Linked DNA regions of Homo sapiens. The protein of the gene in region 2 purifies or fractionates together with the protein of the main gene of each other region. This does not show direct contact. Each region holds a gene or a part of one and is shown on either strand. Other genes may lie near its edges.

Region 1 (3,824 bases), on a different chromosome or scaffold from region 2:
GCAACAGAGTGAGACTCCGCCTCAAAAAAAAAAAAAAGCAGTATTCTGGCCAGGTGCAGTGGCTCATGCCTGTAATCTCAAGCTCTTTGGGAGACTGAAGCAGAAAGGTTGCTTGGGCCTAGAAGTTTGAGACCAGTCTGGGCAACACAGTGAGACCTCGTGTCTACAAAAAATTGAAAATTAGCTGGGCGTGGTGGCACACGTGCCTGTGGTCTCAGCTACTCAAGTGGCTGATGTAGAAGGACCACTTGCGCCTGGGAGGTCAAGTCCACAGTGAGCTGTAACTGCACCACTGCACTCTAGCCTGGGCAACAGAGTGAGAGTCTGTCTCAAAAAAAAAAGTAGATTTCAAAATCAAACATCTTTTTTTATCAGAATGTATAAATGGGCATCTTTCTAATAAAAGGATATTAATAATGTGCATATATTAGTAAAAAATTAATGATAAACAGTTCTGTCTGAGACTAAATAACTGGCAAAAGTAAGATGCAGATAATAGCCTAATGGCAGGGGAGTGGGATTAAGAGGTGGTGGATCAGAATGAATTATTTAAGAACAAGAAAGTGAGAAAAAAGCCAGGCATGGTGGCTCATGCCTGTAATTCCAGCACTTTGGGAGGCCAAAGTGGGTGAATCACTTGAGGTCAGGAGTTCGAGACCAGCCTGGCCAACATGGTGAAACCCTGTCTCTACCTAAAACTACAAAAACTAGCCAGGTGTGGTGGTGGGCGCCTGTAGTCCCAGCTACTTGGAGGCTGAGGCACGAGAATCGCTTCAACCCAGGAAGTGGAGGTTGCAGTAGAGCCGAGACTGTGCCACTGCCCTCCAGCCTGGGTGACAGAGTGAGACCCTGTCTCCAAACAAAAAAGAGAGAAAAGAGGATAAATCAAAAGAATTATTTACCTTCCATAAGCAGAGACTTTAATGAGTAAAGAAATAAGTAATTTGTTTAAATCTAAACACTTTCCAAGCTGAATTTAACAGATATATTCAAGCACAGTCAATATAAAATAAAGATATATGAGAAAGGAAATAAAAGGTTTAATAGCAGAATGGAAAAACTGACCAACAACAAACAGACCAAATGTTAACAACTTGGAAAAAAACTGTTGTCCTGAAAAGCCTCTATAAGACTGCAAAAAGGAATTCAAAAATATGTTGCTCATAAAATACTCTTAAGTTGAAAATGACAAGGAGTGATTTCATCCATGAATACTGATGCCAAACTCTTAATCAAAATATTAACAAATACTCTTCCAGCAGAATATTTTTATTAAAAAATGGAGAAAACCTTATGGTCATAGGCAACAGATACTGGAAAAGCATCTGATAAACTCTATAGCCATTCCTCGTTAAGAACAATTTTTGTAATATAAATGGTGGATATTTTTCATTAATATAATTTTTTAAAAATCCATACACCTCTAACCAAAAGCCAAGATTTCGGCTTACTGCAGAAATACTAGAAGTACTTGCATAATAGTAAGAAGGCAAGAAACGGATGTCTGCCATCATCACCATTACTCGGCATTGCGCTTGAAATACCACTCAGTGCAATCAGATAAGCAAGCGTAAAAACAAGAATACATTATCAGAAAGGAAGAGACAAAATGAACACTATCTTAATATGACACAGTTGTATACTTTAAAAATTCAAGAGAACCAACCAAAAACTAACAGAAAAAGAGTCTGATGGTTAATTATAAAATTTAAATAAAAATCAACAGCTGGCCAGTCCTGGTGGCTGACACCTGTAATTCCAACACTTTTGGAAGGCCAAGGAAGGAGGGATGCTTGAGCCCTGGAGTTCGAGACCAGCCTGGGCAACATAATGAGACCTCATCTCTACAAAAAATAAACAAAATTAGCCAGGTGTAGTGGTGCGTGCCTACAGTCCCAGTTACTTGGGAAGCTAAGGTGGGAGGATCACTGGAGCCCAGGAGATCAAGGCTGCAGAGAGCTGTGATCACACCCCTGCACTCCAGGCTGGGGAACAGAGTGAGACCCTGTCTCAAAAAAAATTAAAAATAAATTACAATAAAAACCAACAGCTTTCCTATATACTAAATAACCAGCTGGAAACCAGATTATCAATAAAAGACATAAAATCCCTAGAATAAAATTAAGAAACTTGAACAACTGACATAAACTACAGAATTTTACAAGAGAAAATAAAGCTAAAGACATGAATAAATGAACAATATCTTGTTCTTGGCTAGGAAGATTCAGTAAAAAGAATCCCTATCTATAAAAATTAAATATAGTCATAATTAAAATCTAATTTTTTTTTCACCTTGACAAAATGTTTCTAAGTTCTTTGGAAAAACAAATATCCCAGAATAGCTGTGAATATTCTGAAAAAGAAGAGCGAGGAAGGGAGACCAGCCTTACAAGATGCTAACAGATGCAGAGCCACAGTCACCAACGTGTGGAATTTCTATAGGAACAGATAAAGAGACTAAAACATGCAAAAATATATGGCAATTTGTTGTGCACATAAGATAATCAGGGGAGAAAAGGCAAATGTGTTTAATAAATGGTAATGGGACAAACTGACTAGTATTTCCATTTGGAAAAAAATTAATGTAGCATTCAGGGAAAAAAAACTTCCCAGCCAGGCGTGGTGGCTCATGCCTGTAATCCCAACACTTTGGGATGCCAAGGCAGGTAGATCACTTGAGGTCAGGCGTTCAAGACCAGCCTGGCCAACATGGTGAAACCCCATCTCTACTAAAAATACAAAAATTAGCTGGGCATGGTGGCATGTGCCTGTAGTCCCAGCTACCCAGGGACTGAGGCATGAGAACTGCTTGAACCTGGGAGGTGGAGATTGCAGTGAGCCAAGATTGTGCCGCTGCACTCCAGCCTGGGCAACAGAGTGAGACTCTGTCTCAAAAAATAAAAAAATAAAAAAAGAAAACATGAATAAATATTTTTATAATCTTGAAGCAGGGAAAAGCTTTCTAATTGTTATATTAAAATCAAGTCATAAAAGATATAATAGGACAAAATAGTAAGGTTGTGTACAGCAAAAATACTCCATGAACAAAATGAGACAAAAGGTAACCCGGGGAAAAAGATATACAACACATACGACAAAGCGCTAATATCCTTTACACAGAAATAGATGAAAGATATAAACAGAAAACACACAATGATCAATAAAACAAACAAAAAGGCTAAAATGCTCAATCTCATCAACATTTTTTAAATGCATATTAAAACAGAAATTTAACCAAATTAGAAAATATTAAAAAATGAGTAATAACCAGTGTTGGTGAAGAAACACTGGCAAACACAAACAGGGCTGGGGGGAGTACATGTTGGTACAAACTTTTTGGAGGAGAATTTGGCAGTCTCTACAAGTATAACAATGTTAAAAAGAGCAGATTTATCATTCAAAAAGAGAAACAGGCTGGATACGGTGGCTCAAACCTGTAATCCCAGCACTGTGGGAGGCCAAGGCAGGAGGATCACTTGAGGCCAGGAGTTTGAGACCAACCTGGACAACACAGCAAACCCCCCCAACTCTATTTATATTAATAAAATAAAATTTTAAAAAAAGAAAGAATACTTCGACAATGTTAACTCACCAATCTTAGAAGGAAAAAGAGTTTCATCATCAAGCTGATCTTGAACCCAAGTCATCAAATAGTCAATGTATTTTGGTGCAGAACATTTGATTGGCTTTTTAATATTAGTACCATCTGCCCAGTGATATTCATATCTGAAGAGAAAAATGTTTTACTGATAAATTTTTCAAAAATATTAACAAATGTGCAAGTTGTGATTAAAACAGGTTCATTCACATTTTGTCAATAGAAG
Region 2 (3,824 bases):
CATTAAACATTAAATTCAAACCAATTCAAGCAATACAGAATTGAATGCGAAAATCAAGAGTCTGCTTCGGAAGTATAAGCAAGTAGAGAGAGTGCTGCTTGCTAATGAACTACAAATTTTTTAATGTCAGAATAAGGAAAACTGTGATTCAGATGACTTTGAAGAGCATCTGACAATTCCAGGTGAAGAAAAGGTAAACACTGAAAAAAAAAAAAAAAAGGACTAAATTCCTAAAAGAGATCAAATAATGACCACAGCAAGAATCTTAAAAAGGGAGAATGTTACTTCAAAAGGTCGTGATTAAATCCAGATTAACAAAGATCTGCTCCAGGTGTACTGTCTCTAATAAAGTTTCCTCCCAAAATAAAAACAAGGGAGAAATAGTGTATTTTAACTCTGACTGAAACCAGAAATCATAGTTTCATCCCAATGGAAAATAGTATTTTTCAATCATATATGAAAAGAAGTCTTTAAAAGAAGAGTGAAGAAGCTATAGATACACCAACAAAAGGAGTGGGTATGAAAAAGACAACTTTAAAAAGTTAAATGGTTGCAAACACTTTAGCTGTCACCGGAATTATGTTTACCTCCGCCGTTTGTTACTACCAAACTGCCGCGGTTCTCTTGGTACTGGCTTTCTCTTCGTAGTCTTTGTTCTTTAGTAATCTCTGCTACTCGAAGAGGCAGATCTGAAAATTCATCTGTAGGCTTAAAAAAGAAGCAGAAACATTAAAAACAATCATTTTAGAGCCTGGCAGATCATGCCTGTAATCCATGCGCTTTGGGAGACCAAAGCAGGAGGATCACTTGAGGCCAGGAGTAAATTAGCTAGATGTGCTCACACATGCCTGTAATCCTAATACTTGGGATGTTGAGGCGAGACGATCGCTTCAGCCCAGGAGTTCGAGGCTGCAATGAGACAGGATTCCACCACTGCACTCCAGCCTGTGCGACAAAGCGAGATCCTATTTCAAAAAAATAAAAATCTGGTCTGGAGTGGTGGCTGATGCCTATAATCCCAACACTTTGGGAGACCAAGATGGGAATGACAAGCCCAGGAGTTTGAGACTAGCCTGGGCAATATAGGGAGAGCATGTCTCTAAAAAAAAATTTTTTTTAATTAGCCAGGCATGGTGGCATAAGCCTGTAGTCCCAGCTACTCAGGAGGTTTAGGTGGGAGGACTGCTTGAGCCATGGTCGTGCCACTGCACTCCAGCCTGGGTGAAAGAGCAAGACTCTGTCTCAAAAAATATAAAAGATTCATGACTCCATAAATTATATATATATAGATTTAAAATATCTACATATATATCTGTATTGATACAGCCACATTTATGAACCCACCCACCAAGACATACAAACACAAGTAATTCCAAATTTCAAATGGGATGTGGTCTAAAATTAATTTGGTTTCAATTCACAGTAAAACAATGTTATAAATAGTAGGTTATCAGTCTTGCTAACAAAAGTTTACTTAATAACTTAATGCATAGCTAAAATATTACACATTAGTAATTTTTATTTATTTTTTTACTTTTTTTCTTCTGTAGACCTCTGTGGACACAGTAATTTTTAAGAGCAGAAAACATAATATCAATAATTTAAAAACGAGAAAAACGACAGAATTAGCCAGGAAGTTATTCCTCTTGAGCACATGAATACTCTTTACTAAGGTCCTTGTCTCTACCCATCAGCCGAAAGTCCTACTTGTTTTCTCACCATCTAGCACCTCTGCTCGAGATTACCCCCCACCTCAGATTGTAGGCTTCAGTTTCAACTGGCTCAGCTCCTGTTTGCCTTTCTATGATATGAAACTATTTCCATGAGGCAATGAGGAAACAGGCGGAAATCCACGTGACAGAAAGCCGGTAAGGACGCAGAATGCCAATTCTGCTGGAGAGGGTGGGAATCTTGCCTCCACCTTGACTTTTCTGTATTTTATGTAGTGAGAAACTGAATCCAGTTAAGACGCTTTTCATTTTCATCATTCTGTTTTCTCTTAATCAGGTGTTATAACACACGGAACATAAAAAACACTTACTTCATTCCCTGACCATCTCTTATCACCACTGTCCACACTATTGAAGCCTGAATCAAGGGCTCCATAAGGGCGACTTGAGTACAGTTCTTCATGGCTGCCGAAAAGAGACTCTGTTACTGCAAAGTTTGTTATTTTAACAATTAAAATTTGAAATTAAACAGATCAATTTTCTAAAAAACAAGAAATGTGGCAGTCACTTAACTATTAGAACTAAATGGGCTTTAATTTTTTAATATGAAAAATTCCAAATAGAAACAAAGCAAACAGAATAGCATGAGACCTCATGTACTCATTATTATCCAGCTTCAAAACAATCACACCTCTGCAATTCTTGTTCGTCCAATGAGGCGAGTTTACTAGGACTGTGCTTTTAAGCAAAATTTGAGAGGTTCAAGAGAAGGCCTGAGAGGTTCTCTTTTGAGTAAAGTCCATAAACATTACTTCACTTTGACTGAAACATCTATCCTGCTTGTTTAAAGGCCTAAGAATTTAATTCTTGCTACTTAAGACTGCTCCATACTCAGGAGGCTGAGGTGGGAGGAATGCTTGAGCTCAGGAGTTTGAGACCAGGCTGGGCAACATAGTAAGACCTTGTTTCAAAAAAAAGAGATTGTTCCAGATGGTTGGGACTGCCAAGCAGATGACCTTATAAGTCACAGGCTGTGTAGCTGAGGGACTCATAGATTAAAAGATCCTGAAGTGATGTTAATGGTCAACAAATCCAACTCTTGACTCCTTGTAGAAAAAATGAAACTCAAAAAGTAGGAATGACTTGCCTTCGGCTAGTTACCTCAGCAGCAGAGCTAAAGTTAGCGTTCAAGTCACTCAGACCAGTAGTTTTCAACTGGAGGGCCCCAAGGTGACATTTGGAGACTTTGCGAGGGTACTACTGGCATCTATCTAATGGGCAGACACCAAGGATGCTGGTAAATGTCTTACAATGTACAGGACAGCCCATCACAACAAAGAATTATCTGATCTAAAATGTCAACAGTGCCAAGGTTGAGAAACCCTTAGAACTAGACTTTGCCAGATCTAGGTAATCAACTTTACAATACAAGCATTCTGAGAATAACAGTGTTAAAACAGGTTATTTCCCTTTAGTCAAACATTCAGGCAAATTTAAGTATCCATTTTATTTGATTCTCTGTACAAAAAATATGATAGATAAAGGGACAGAATATACTTACCAGGAGCCAAAACCCAACGGTCTCCTATCATAATCCGGCAGATCTGGAGCAATCTTACAAGCTTGTATGTTCAGGTATTTAAATATGTGGACTTTGCCTTTTATACATATCTAAATAAAGTCACACAGATGTAGCCAAATTATTACTCATCTGAAGTATGCTCCTTTTTATCATATCAACATTTTATGTAACATACATTGGGAAAGGGAGGCATTTCTATCAAGTACATACAGTAATATTTAAAAACTAATAAATTATATTATTTGGTTAAGTGTTATTTTAGGTGTTTAACTGGTAAATATGTTTTCATTTTCTAGTCACTAATACATTTCAGTAATATATAAATAAATAACTTTTGATTATACTGTTCAAATACCAAGTAAACTTATCACACTGACTAGTTTGCATAGTCAGAGATTTAAAGCATTTCTCCTCATTAGATTACATGAAGCAACTTTTACTTTTAGGAATCCAACAATCATATACAACTATGTTTTTGATTCTGCTTTGAGAGAGAAGAGCAGGAAATCATGAAACATTACATATATTTCTGTTGCTACTTGTCCCAGAAGTCAAAACACAAATTCTTGAGG

The links.
Region 1: the proteins of LRCH3 (region 2) and MOB1A purify together in Homo sapiens (co-immunoprecipitation; one large-scale study listed by IntAct). This does not show direct contact.

Annotation. Positions count from the first base shown.
Region 1 is NC_000002.12:74,161,626-74,165,449, forward strand, and holds part of MOB1A (MOB kinase activator 1A), read right to left. Parts: intron 3,727-3,824; coding exon 3,593-3,726; intron 1-3,592. UniProt on the Homo sapiens protein: Activator of LATS1/2 in the Hippo signaling pathway which plays a pivotal role in organ size control and tumor suppression by restricting proliferation and promoting apoptosis.
Region 2 is NC_000003.12:197,829,081-197,832,904, reverse strand, and holds part of LRCH3 (DISP complex protein LRCH3), read right to left. Parts: intron 3,342-3,824; coding exon 3,232-3,341; intron 2,141-3,231; exon of another isoform or gene 2,136-2,140; coding exon 2,042-2,135; exon of another isoform or gene 2,008-2,041; intron 1,869-2,007; exon of another isoform or gene 1,682-1,868; intron 1,631-1,681; exon of another isoform or gene 1,551-1,630; intron 709-1,550; coding exon 588-708; intron 1-587. UniProt on the Homo sapiens protein: As part of the DISP complex, may regulate the association of septins with actin and thereby regulate the actin cytoskeleton.